2 linked regions of the Homo sapiens genome follow. The protein of the gene in region 2 purifies or fractionates together with the protein of the main gene of each other region. This does not show direct contact. Each region holds a gene or a part of one and is shown on either strand. Other genes may lie near its edges.

Region 1 (3,990 bases), about 18 Mb from region 2:
TAATAGACTGTTGTTATTTAAATAGACTGTTGTAGTTTCTACCGCAAGATGCAATTGTTGAGAGCGTGATTTCTAACATTTTACATAAAACTGCCGTAAAAGGTTTACTGGAACTTAATATACATTGCCTATTTGGTTGATGCTTTCAACACTCTGTAGGGCTTTCACACAGGACTAGCCTCAGTGGAATTTTATCGATTAAATTAATCTACCAATGGGTGATTAAGAATTATCTGTTTTATTGCATATTTAATAGGTTGGGGGGGCGGAATTCTTTCTTTCTACGGCTAATTGCCCTCAGTTCAATTTTACCACTGTGATATTCATTCCACATGCTCTGATGAGTGTGGTACTTGAGACATTACCTTAGTGAGGGAAGGGACCAATGTTACAAATGAATCCGGAAGGACGCTAAAACTAACACCTGCAAATTATGTACATGTTTATATTCCAGGCGCTGGTTTAGCTTTTGGGAGAAGTCAGTGAGGAAAACCCGTAAAGATCCCCGTCTTTACGGTGCTTACCCTGAAGATGGGAGTGGAGAGGGAGGTATTCAACCAGCAAGAAATCGGAAAACGCGCAGAGCGGCCGCGGGGTCACGGGAAACTGCCGGAGGCTTTCAGGGCCCAGGGCCCGGCGGGGAGGCTTCAGCGGGCCTGCATTTTCTTAGGCATCCGCTCCAGGCGGGTTCAAGTTTTCAACCAGACCTTCGGCGATCCAGCGCCTAGGGAACGTCAATGCGGGTGACTTCTCCCGCTGTGCAGGGCGGTGACCCGGGTTGGCGCGCCCAGTTCCCCGCCAGAGTCGGCCGGGGACTTCCCTGATAAATGCGACACCCTCTTGCCCCTGCGCCCCCCGACCGCGCGCCCGGCCCCGCGTGTCCCCCACGCCCCACAACCCTGCACGCCCTACCCGGCCGCGCATCCCCTCCGGACCGTGCGTCGCCGCCCTCACCATTGCGCCCCCAGCTGTGTGTCCCTTGCGACCGGGCCCCCCGACCGGGCGTCACCGCCTGCGACTCTGAGAGCCCTGCGGGCTAGAGACCGTGCGGCCATCTCGCCTCGAGGCGAGGCCCTCCTGCCTGGTCCTCACCTCCAGAGCGTGCATCCCCCGGCCCGTGCGGCCCCCTAAGGGGCGGGCGCTGGGCGGCGCTGGACGGCGCGAGGCGGGGCGGGGCGGGGCGGGGCGCCGGACGCCATCGCGTCGCTACCGGCCGGCGGCTGTCTGACCGGGACTGCAGCCGTGTCCTCGCCGCCCTCCTCTTGCCCACGCCTCCCGGGCACTCGCCTGGTCCCGGCGGCGGCGCGCGCGGCCGCGTTGGGCGGCGGCGGTTCCGGGGATGGTGAGGCGGCGGCGCGCGACGACGATGCTCCGGAGCTGAGGAGACGCCGGCACACGGCGCGACTGCCGAGCGCAGCGCCCACCCGCGGGATGGCTCAGGCGGCTGGCCCGGCGGGCGGCGGGGAGCCGCGGACTGAGGCAGTGGGCGGCGAGGGGCCGCGGGAGCCCGGGGCAGCCGGCGGCGCGGCCGGGGGCTCCCGGGACGCGCTGAGCCTGGAGGAGATCCTGCGGCTGTACAACCAGCCCATCAACGAGGAGCAGGCGTGGGCCGTGTGCTACCAGTGCTGCGGTTCCCTGCGCGCCGCCGCCCGCCGCCGCCAGCCCCGCCACCGTGTGCGCTCGGCCGCGCAGATCCGCGTCTGGAGGGACGGCGCCGTCACCCTGGCGCCCGCGGCCGACGACGCGGGAGAGCCGCCCCCAGTTGCGGGTGAGGCCGCCGGGCCCCTTTCCCTCGTAGTTCTTGGAACACCCGCGGCTGGGCCGCCTTACCCTCAGCGTCCCCGGCCCTTCCGCCCCCGCCGTCCCCCCCCATTTTGCCACGGGAGACCCCCGGGAGGATCCGGCGGGGACCCGCAGGGGAGGACGGCGTCAGGCCGTGGCTGGCCGGGGCCCCTCGGAGGTCAGAGCCTCGTGGCGGGCGACGGCGCAAATCCGCTGTGCGGAGGACGTTTGGGTGGGCCTGGGCCTGCGGGCCGCGGGGCGCTCGTCATTGTGCTGCCCGCGGGACAGCTGCCCGCGGCGCGTTTGGGAGCGGTGGGCTGGGCCCTGCTCCGGGCCAGCGGCCTGTGCGCCTCACGCCGTGGCTGCTGACACACGGCCGGGTTCACGGGGTGGGGAGGGCATCGCAGGCTTCACGCGGGGGCTCCGCACGGATCCTCAGTGCCGCTGTCGGAAACACCGCACTCCTCACGGGAAACTAGCAGTATTCCACATTAGACAGCCTTTCCTCGGTTCGGAAATGTAAAGATGATTCTGAACCGTGAGAATTCTGCTCTTTGGGGAGAAATGGAAAAATAGACTAAATAGTGATTTTTGGCTCCTGGACGTTAGAAAATACTGATTGCATTCCTGTATGTGAAAATTTGTTGTGATGAAAAACAGGCTTGTAAAGTGAAAAGTTGACAGGATGTCGGGATACAAAGAGAAAATGGGCCTTAGTTACGTCATTGTCTAATGTAAAATTTTCAGGATTATGACCTAAACAGTAATTTATAGCCAGGGTTTACTCAGATGCTCATTGAAGAGGAGGAGGAGGTTGAGAAAAGGTTTCTCCCATCAGTTTTTATCTAATTCATTCTTTTGAGAGGCAAGTCTATTAAAAACATAGAAAAACAATCTACCCTCACTTTTAGAAAGTTGATGGAAATGTCAAAATGCTTAAGGTGAAAGATGTAATTTCGAATTAGTAAAATGACATTTAATGAAAACCCTTGTCTAACTTGATTAAAACAATATTCAAGGTTATAGTTATTCTTTCAGTTCCACCAGAACGTTTTTATCTTTTATTTTTTAGTGTCAGGTAAACACATTTTTATTTACATGCTTTTATCTTTTATTTTTTAGCGTCAGGTAAACGATTTTTTATTTAAAGCCATCTTTTTAATTGTTCTTTTGAAACTATTTCAAATAGTATTTTTGTTTCTTTGATGGGCTTATTGCTTTTAAACTTGGACTTAATCTTAGTGGGAAATACTTGCAATTATAATTTATAGTGTATTAAATGGTACAAAAGATACATTTATAAAATACAGCAATGTCTGCCAGGTGCGGTGGCTCAAGCCTGTAATCCCAGCACTTTGGGATGCCGAGGCAGGTGGATCACCTGAGGTCAGGAGTTCGAGACCAGCCTGGCCAACATGGTGAAACCCCGTCTCTATTAAAAATACAAAAATTAGCCGGGCGTGGTGTTGTGCCGCTGGAATACCAGCTACTCGGGAGGCTGAGGTGGGAGAATTGCTTGAACCTGGGAGGTGGAGGCTGTAGTGAGCTGAGATCGCGCCACTGCACTCCAGCCTGGGTGACAGAGCGAGACGCCGTCTCAAAAAAAAATACAGCAATATCGTGCCTTGGGATTTAGCTATTTCCAGAGGAAAAATGGTTGTGTGCAGCCTGCTTTTAGAAGCAGCGTTGGTAGTGGTGATTTCCGGAGAGAACAAGCCCCCAGTTTACATTGTCTTGTCACTTAAATTTAATCCCAAAATCGTGTAGTTTTGTTGTCAAAGATTGATAGATTCTCGTGGATGGGTTTTTTCTTTTTTTTTGGTCTGAATCTTATGTTGAATTGGATTATTTTTTACATCACTAGTGTGAGTGATAACATGTTGATCTCAGTGTAATAAACTGCCTTTATGGAGAAAATAGTGAGTGGAGTTGTTCTCCACAATTCGCAATAGGTTTATAATTCTCTTTCTCAGTTCTGCTCATGACCTGCGCTACCAGTTATGGAGGAGGCCTAATCAAAGTTGTTGATAGAGACTTGAGCATTTTCTGTTGCCTAAAATTATTTAAGAAGTTCATACTAAAACATTAGTTTATTTCCTCATTGGCTTTAAGAATAGTTGCGTGGCTCAGGAAGATACAGTCTTCTGAAGATTTTATCTTGATTCTTACACTTGATGAATAATTTGGTGGTGTGCACACTTAAAAATT
Region 2 (5,174 bases):
CTTTCAGACTTCCTACTTGAGGAACAGGCATATGGTACTGACATATATTGAAATACAGGACACTAAAAGAAAAACAACATTGTTTGGGAAGATAATAAATGCTGTGTCACACATCACAGTCAGTAGAGTGATACAAAGGACTATTGTTCAATGAAGACATCTGAACTAGTAATATTAATTTAGTATATGTTGGCAACTGTGTGATATTTTAAGCTATAAAAGTGGATAAAATGCCCTAGGGAAAGAGTGTAGATTCCAAAGGACAAGACCTAGAACAGAAAACCAAGAGACACCAGCATTTAAGAGTGCAGGAAAAAGTAGTCAAACTCATAGAAGCAGAAAATAGAATGGTGGTTGCCAGGTGACGGAGGTTAGGGGAAACAGGGATTTGCTGTTTAATGGATATAAAAGTTTGGTTATGGAAACTGAAAGTTCTAGAGATCTGCTATATGACATTGTGCTTATAATTAACAATACGATACACTTAGAAATGTGTTAGGAGGGTAGATCTCATGTTATGTCATTTTTACCAAACCAAAAAAAGACAACAGAAAAAGAAGAAAAAGACAAGACGCTAGGTAGGGAGTCAGACCCTGAGTGGTCAGAAAGATTAAAAAAAAAGGCGGGGGGGAGTGAATGTCAAGAATAAGGGCAAAAGCTACAAGGTGGAACCATATAAAGAATGAGTCATTTGGATTTAGCACAGGAGAGCCAGTGATCTTAGAAGGTTTATTAGTGGTTAGCAGAAGACAGAGTTCAAGTGGCTAAGCCAGGTGTGGTCTGAAGAAACATTAAGAAGTGAGGAAAAGCTGATTTGTGGAATGGTGAAGGATTACTTGGGTATATGGGAAGGAAGGAAGGTAAAGGATCCTACCCTCCTACCAAAGATATTTCTCCCCCCTTTTTGAGACAGGATTTCGCTCTGTCACCAAGGCTGGGATGCAGTGGCATGACCAGGGCTCACTGCAGCCTGGACCTCCCAAGCTCAAGCAATCCTCCCACCTTAGCCTCTCTCCAGTGACTTGGACCACAGGCGCGCACCCCATGCCCAGCTACAATCATTCTTACTTAATAATTTCTTACACTTAGTATTTACGCATTTCTCACACTTGAGACTCACAACCACAACAGCCACGTGAGGTTGGCAGGGCTTTGCACAGATGTGCACAGAGCAAAAACCAGCAGAATGAGAGTGTAGGCAGGGCCAGCATACTTCCTACCCCACTCCCCGCCTATCAAACTCCGAAGCTAAGGAAGAACAAGGAATGGAAATTCAATTTCAGTGTATTCAGTGATACCCCACCTCCTCCTAAACAGAATCTGAGATAACACACAGAAAGCTCTCTCTGCAGGTATATGCAGAGCAATGCCACGCATTGCCAGCGTCTGTGCATGCCTTTTCCTTTAAAGAATGGCCGGTGGTTTTAAAAGAAATTGCAATTTTATTAGGAGTCTAATGAAAATTTATTTCTTACTCATCAACATATGTTCTGACCGTTATTTATTCCATTCTTGGTTTCCTCATCTGTAAAATGTTAACTGCTGTGTACTTGGCCCTTTCTATGTTATTAATATGCCCTGAGAATTCAGTTAAGGGTTTGAAGTCCATTGAGCTCCTCGAGAAAGACATTCTAATAACAGTAACAATTACCAATTCATGATTGTAAAATGTGGAACTCTACTGCGAAGTGAGAGCGGAAGAGAAGGGGAAATTATACGAATATTTCAGCCCCCAGTTCACTTCTCCCAGAAGGAATTAGCCTTCCGGGTTCCTCCCTTTGTCCTTCAAGATTGATTGGCGCCCAACGCCTTCTGCTTAAGACAAGGAGCACTTTTCCACACCTGTCGATTTTTTTCCTCTTCCAGGGAGCCAGGAAAAGTCCAATCGGACTTTTTATATCCCCAATTCCCCAGACGCTGCTCCCGGCATTGGCTTTTTGCGTCTTCAGGCTCCCCAACGAGATCCCATCGGTCAAGCCTGGGAAAGGGGCTGTCCCGCCCCAAATAAGGCCAACCACTTAGGCTCCCAGCTCTGGGAAGGGGTAGGGTCATTGCTGTAGTGCTCTTTAAAGAAAGAAAGAACCTGGGGCAAGGGGCGGTGGCGCGGGGGGCGGGTGGTGAGCAGAAAAATCGAGTCGCCTCTGGGGACAAGAAATCAGAAAGACCCTTCCTTCCTCCGAAGATTTAGGGAACTGAAGCCTCGCACGTTAAGAAACCACTGAAACTGTACAAATGCTCACCTAGGGCTCGCCGGTCGACAGTCCTCAGGAGCAAAGGGTCAAGATCCCCTCCCCCACCCGCCACTTCCCCCCGCCCTTCTCTCAGAGTAAACAATTCCCAGAAAGGCGAGCAGTTCCCTTTTTCACCCAAGGACACTCGCTCTCCGTCCCGGCCGCCCAGCGGTTCCCCTTTCCGTGGCCTGGGCAGGCGCTGAGGCACAGGGAGCCGCACGTTCCCGAGGCACAGGGAGCCGCACGTTCCCGAGGCACAGGGAGCCGCACGTTCCCGGGGAAGGTGCCAGAGGCCAGCTGGACGGCCCCGGCGCACTCCCGCCCCGGCGCACTCCCGCCCCGGCGCACTCCGACCCCGGCGCACTCCCGCCCCGGCGCACCCTGCTCCCCGGCGCGTACCCAGGGGCCACGATTTTGGCTGGGCGAAAGCGGCCCGCTCCCGCCTCTCCTTGAGTGCGCTGATTACATCTACCGGAGACACCTTCCCTTCCCTTGGGGATCCCAACTCTCAGGTCGCGATCCTCTTCCTATCTGCCCTCCCCCACCCCCGCCAACTCCATTTTCTAGCCACCCAGAGGCCCCTTCACCCCAGCTTTTCCCGCCACCCCCACCTATCCCCGTTCCCCTAGTTTTCCTCTGCACCCTAGGCGATCGCCCCCTTCCCCGGAGCGGTGGCCGCGGCTACACTCACCGCGAGGGTCAGCAGGAGCAGCCGGCAGAGGGCTCCGTTCCAGGAGCCGGAGGGGCGGGCTGCCTCCATGGAGAGGGCTCGGGGCAGGTCGCGGGCCGAGCGTCGGGCCGGGGTAGGAGGGCTCCGCGGGGCGAGGGCCGCGGCCGGAGCGCAGTCTGGGCCCGCTGCTCAGGAGGAGCGCGAGGCGGAGGAGGTGGGGCGCGCGGAGAGGTGCTTTTCTTAGCTTCTCTGAAGCGCCTGCCTCTCATCCAAGGGGCTTTTCCTTTGGCGGAGGGAGGGGCTCCAGACGCGTCCAAAAGACACCGATCGGCCCCTCCTTGTTGTCTATTTAAGACTTAAGACTTCATTTCTCTAAGAAAGCCACGGGTGGGAACTCCCTCTCGCCGCCACCCTTTTACCTGCGCAAGGTGTTTCTCACCAGCGGACGCCACCTATAAGGCCCATCTCCCCCACCACGCCCCGGTGTCCGCTCCGCCAGGCGAGATTAACAGCCGGCCCTGCCCAGCAGAAGCCCTGACTGCACAAAGACTCACTCCTGAGTGCGCGGTCGGCCCCGGCTCCGCCCTGCCCGCTGCCCTCGGCGACGGCCGTGGTCCCTGCCCTGGGGTCAATTACAGAGCGAGGTCTGAGCCGCAGAGGCTGGGTTTTAGGTCACAGCTGCCTGAGGCCCACCTGACAGAAAGTTGACTCCAGGGAGACTGTTACACACTCTACTGGAGTGAATTTCCTACACACACCCACAAGCAGTTCAGACATCATAGTCATCTGAGGCACCATTCTTTGGGGTCTTGTGTTTTTAGGAATTTACTGGCATGACAATGATACAAGACAATCGCCATAATTTAGAGACAAAAATACATATATACATACATACGTACGTAAAGTTAGGGAATCAAGGCGACTGCAAAATAATAAAATCGAGGGTGAGTTACTATAAGAAATGCATCCATTGAGGTCCTAGTCGTGGGCTACATGTGGTTACTGATTTTCTCCAAGAACATCCCTGGTCACAAATAGAGTTATAACTTATTTCCTATACCGGACTCCTGAACATCCAGTGGAGAGTTCTCACCTTCTTTACTACCATCAAAACCAGAGTTCATGGTGAGAAATGAATAAGAATGGGATAATTTACATTTTTATTTGAAGTGCACTTAAACTAAATGAATTATTGCAGCACACAATCTGGAAGATTAAGATATAAATGCTGTTTCTTTTAGCTCTTCAGAAAGCAATGACAAGGCATCTGACTCATCCTCCTGCACCTCTTTTCAATTACTGACTTAAACCAGGTAAGCCTGACCACAAAAGAGAAACTTGTCTGCTCCCTTTTATTTGGTTTAAGTTTCCTCAGGGATGTCCTGAGAATCCTATGTGAAAAGCCAACCCTGACACTCACACCATTTCGATTCTTGAAAATGTTCACCATCTTAACACCATTGTATGCCGAGCCAGAATTACTGCAATACTGAGTGTATATTTAAATTAAAAATTAATGTCAAACAGCGCATGCCTTACATTCTCTGTGTCTGTGCTATGCTCATGCCCTATTTTATTAACGAATGCCACTAATGAGCTGTTCTGTCTCCATATCCATAAAATTATCATTGACCCTTTGCTAGTAAAATAAGCCTGAGTCATCAGCATGAGACTATAATTGACATCCTTCCGTTTCCATATTTTTTAACACTCATAGTTTTCCATCAATGATACCATAAGCACACCTCATCCTATTAAAGATGACATCATGGTCTCTAGCATGAAGCTTTTCAGAGGACAAAAAGAAAGCTATAAGCGTTTCAGGTTCTGGAGATCTACTCAGACTATCATCACAGGCTTTGACTATAGGACATTTCCAAACTCTTGCCTACTCTTTACCCTCTGATGCCTTAAGGGCAGCTCATGTTTTTCCTCATTCCAGGAAAGGGCGGAAGAGCAATTTGACTAGAATTCATCTTAGATATTTATTTTCCTCTTTCACATTAATTGATAGAGGCTATTAAAATGGTGATTTGTTTGTTTTATTCCAAAAAAAACTTTCAACAAAAGAATGGAATATAAAGTACTTTCTCTGAGCAAGTACCCAATTTATTTAATGTATTTAGGTTAGGCTATATGGTCACTGAAATAGATCCCTCTAAAACATAGGTTTGAAACAAAGGGCATATATTTAAAAAAAAAATGGAATGTGAGTAGATGTGATCTTTTTTTAAAAGAATGACTTTTGCTTATGAATATGATTCTGCTGCATG

Evidence for each region. Proteins that work in one complex are often made in the same cells at the same time.
Region 1: the proteins of DSC2 (region 2) and SPIRE1 fractionate together in Homo sapiens (co-fractionation; one large-scale study listed by BioGRID). This does not show direct contact.

Annotation. Positions count from the first base shown.
Region 1 is NC_000018.10:12,655,308-12,659,297, reverse strand, and holds the start of SPIRE1 (protein spire homolog 1), read left to right. Parts: upstream 1-1,190; 5' UTR 1,191-1,431; coding exon 1,432-1,768; intron 1,769-2,565; exon of another isoform or gene 2,566-2,647; intron 2,648-3,990.
Region 2 is NC_000018.10:31,098,981-31,104,154, forward strand, and holds the start of DSC2 (desmocollin-2 isoform Dsc2a preproprotein), read right to left. Parts: upstream 3,442-5,174; 5' UTR 2,992-3,441; coding exon 2,923-2,991; intron 2,744-2,922; exon of another isoform or gene 2,608-2,743; intron 2,281-2,607; exon of another isoform or gene 2,241-2,280; intron 1-2,240. UniProt on the Homo sapiens protein: A component of desmosome cell-cell junctions which are required for positive regulation of cellular adhesion.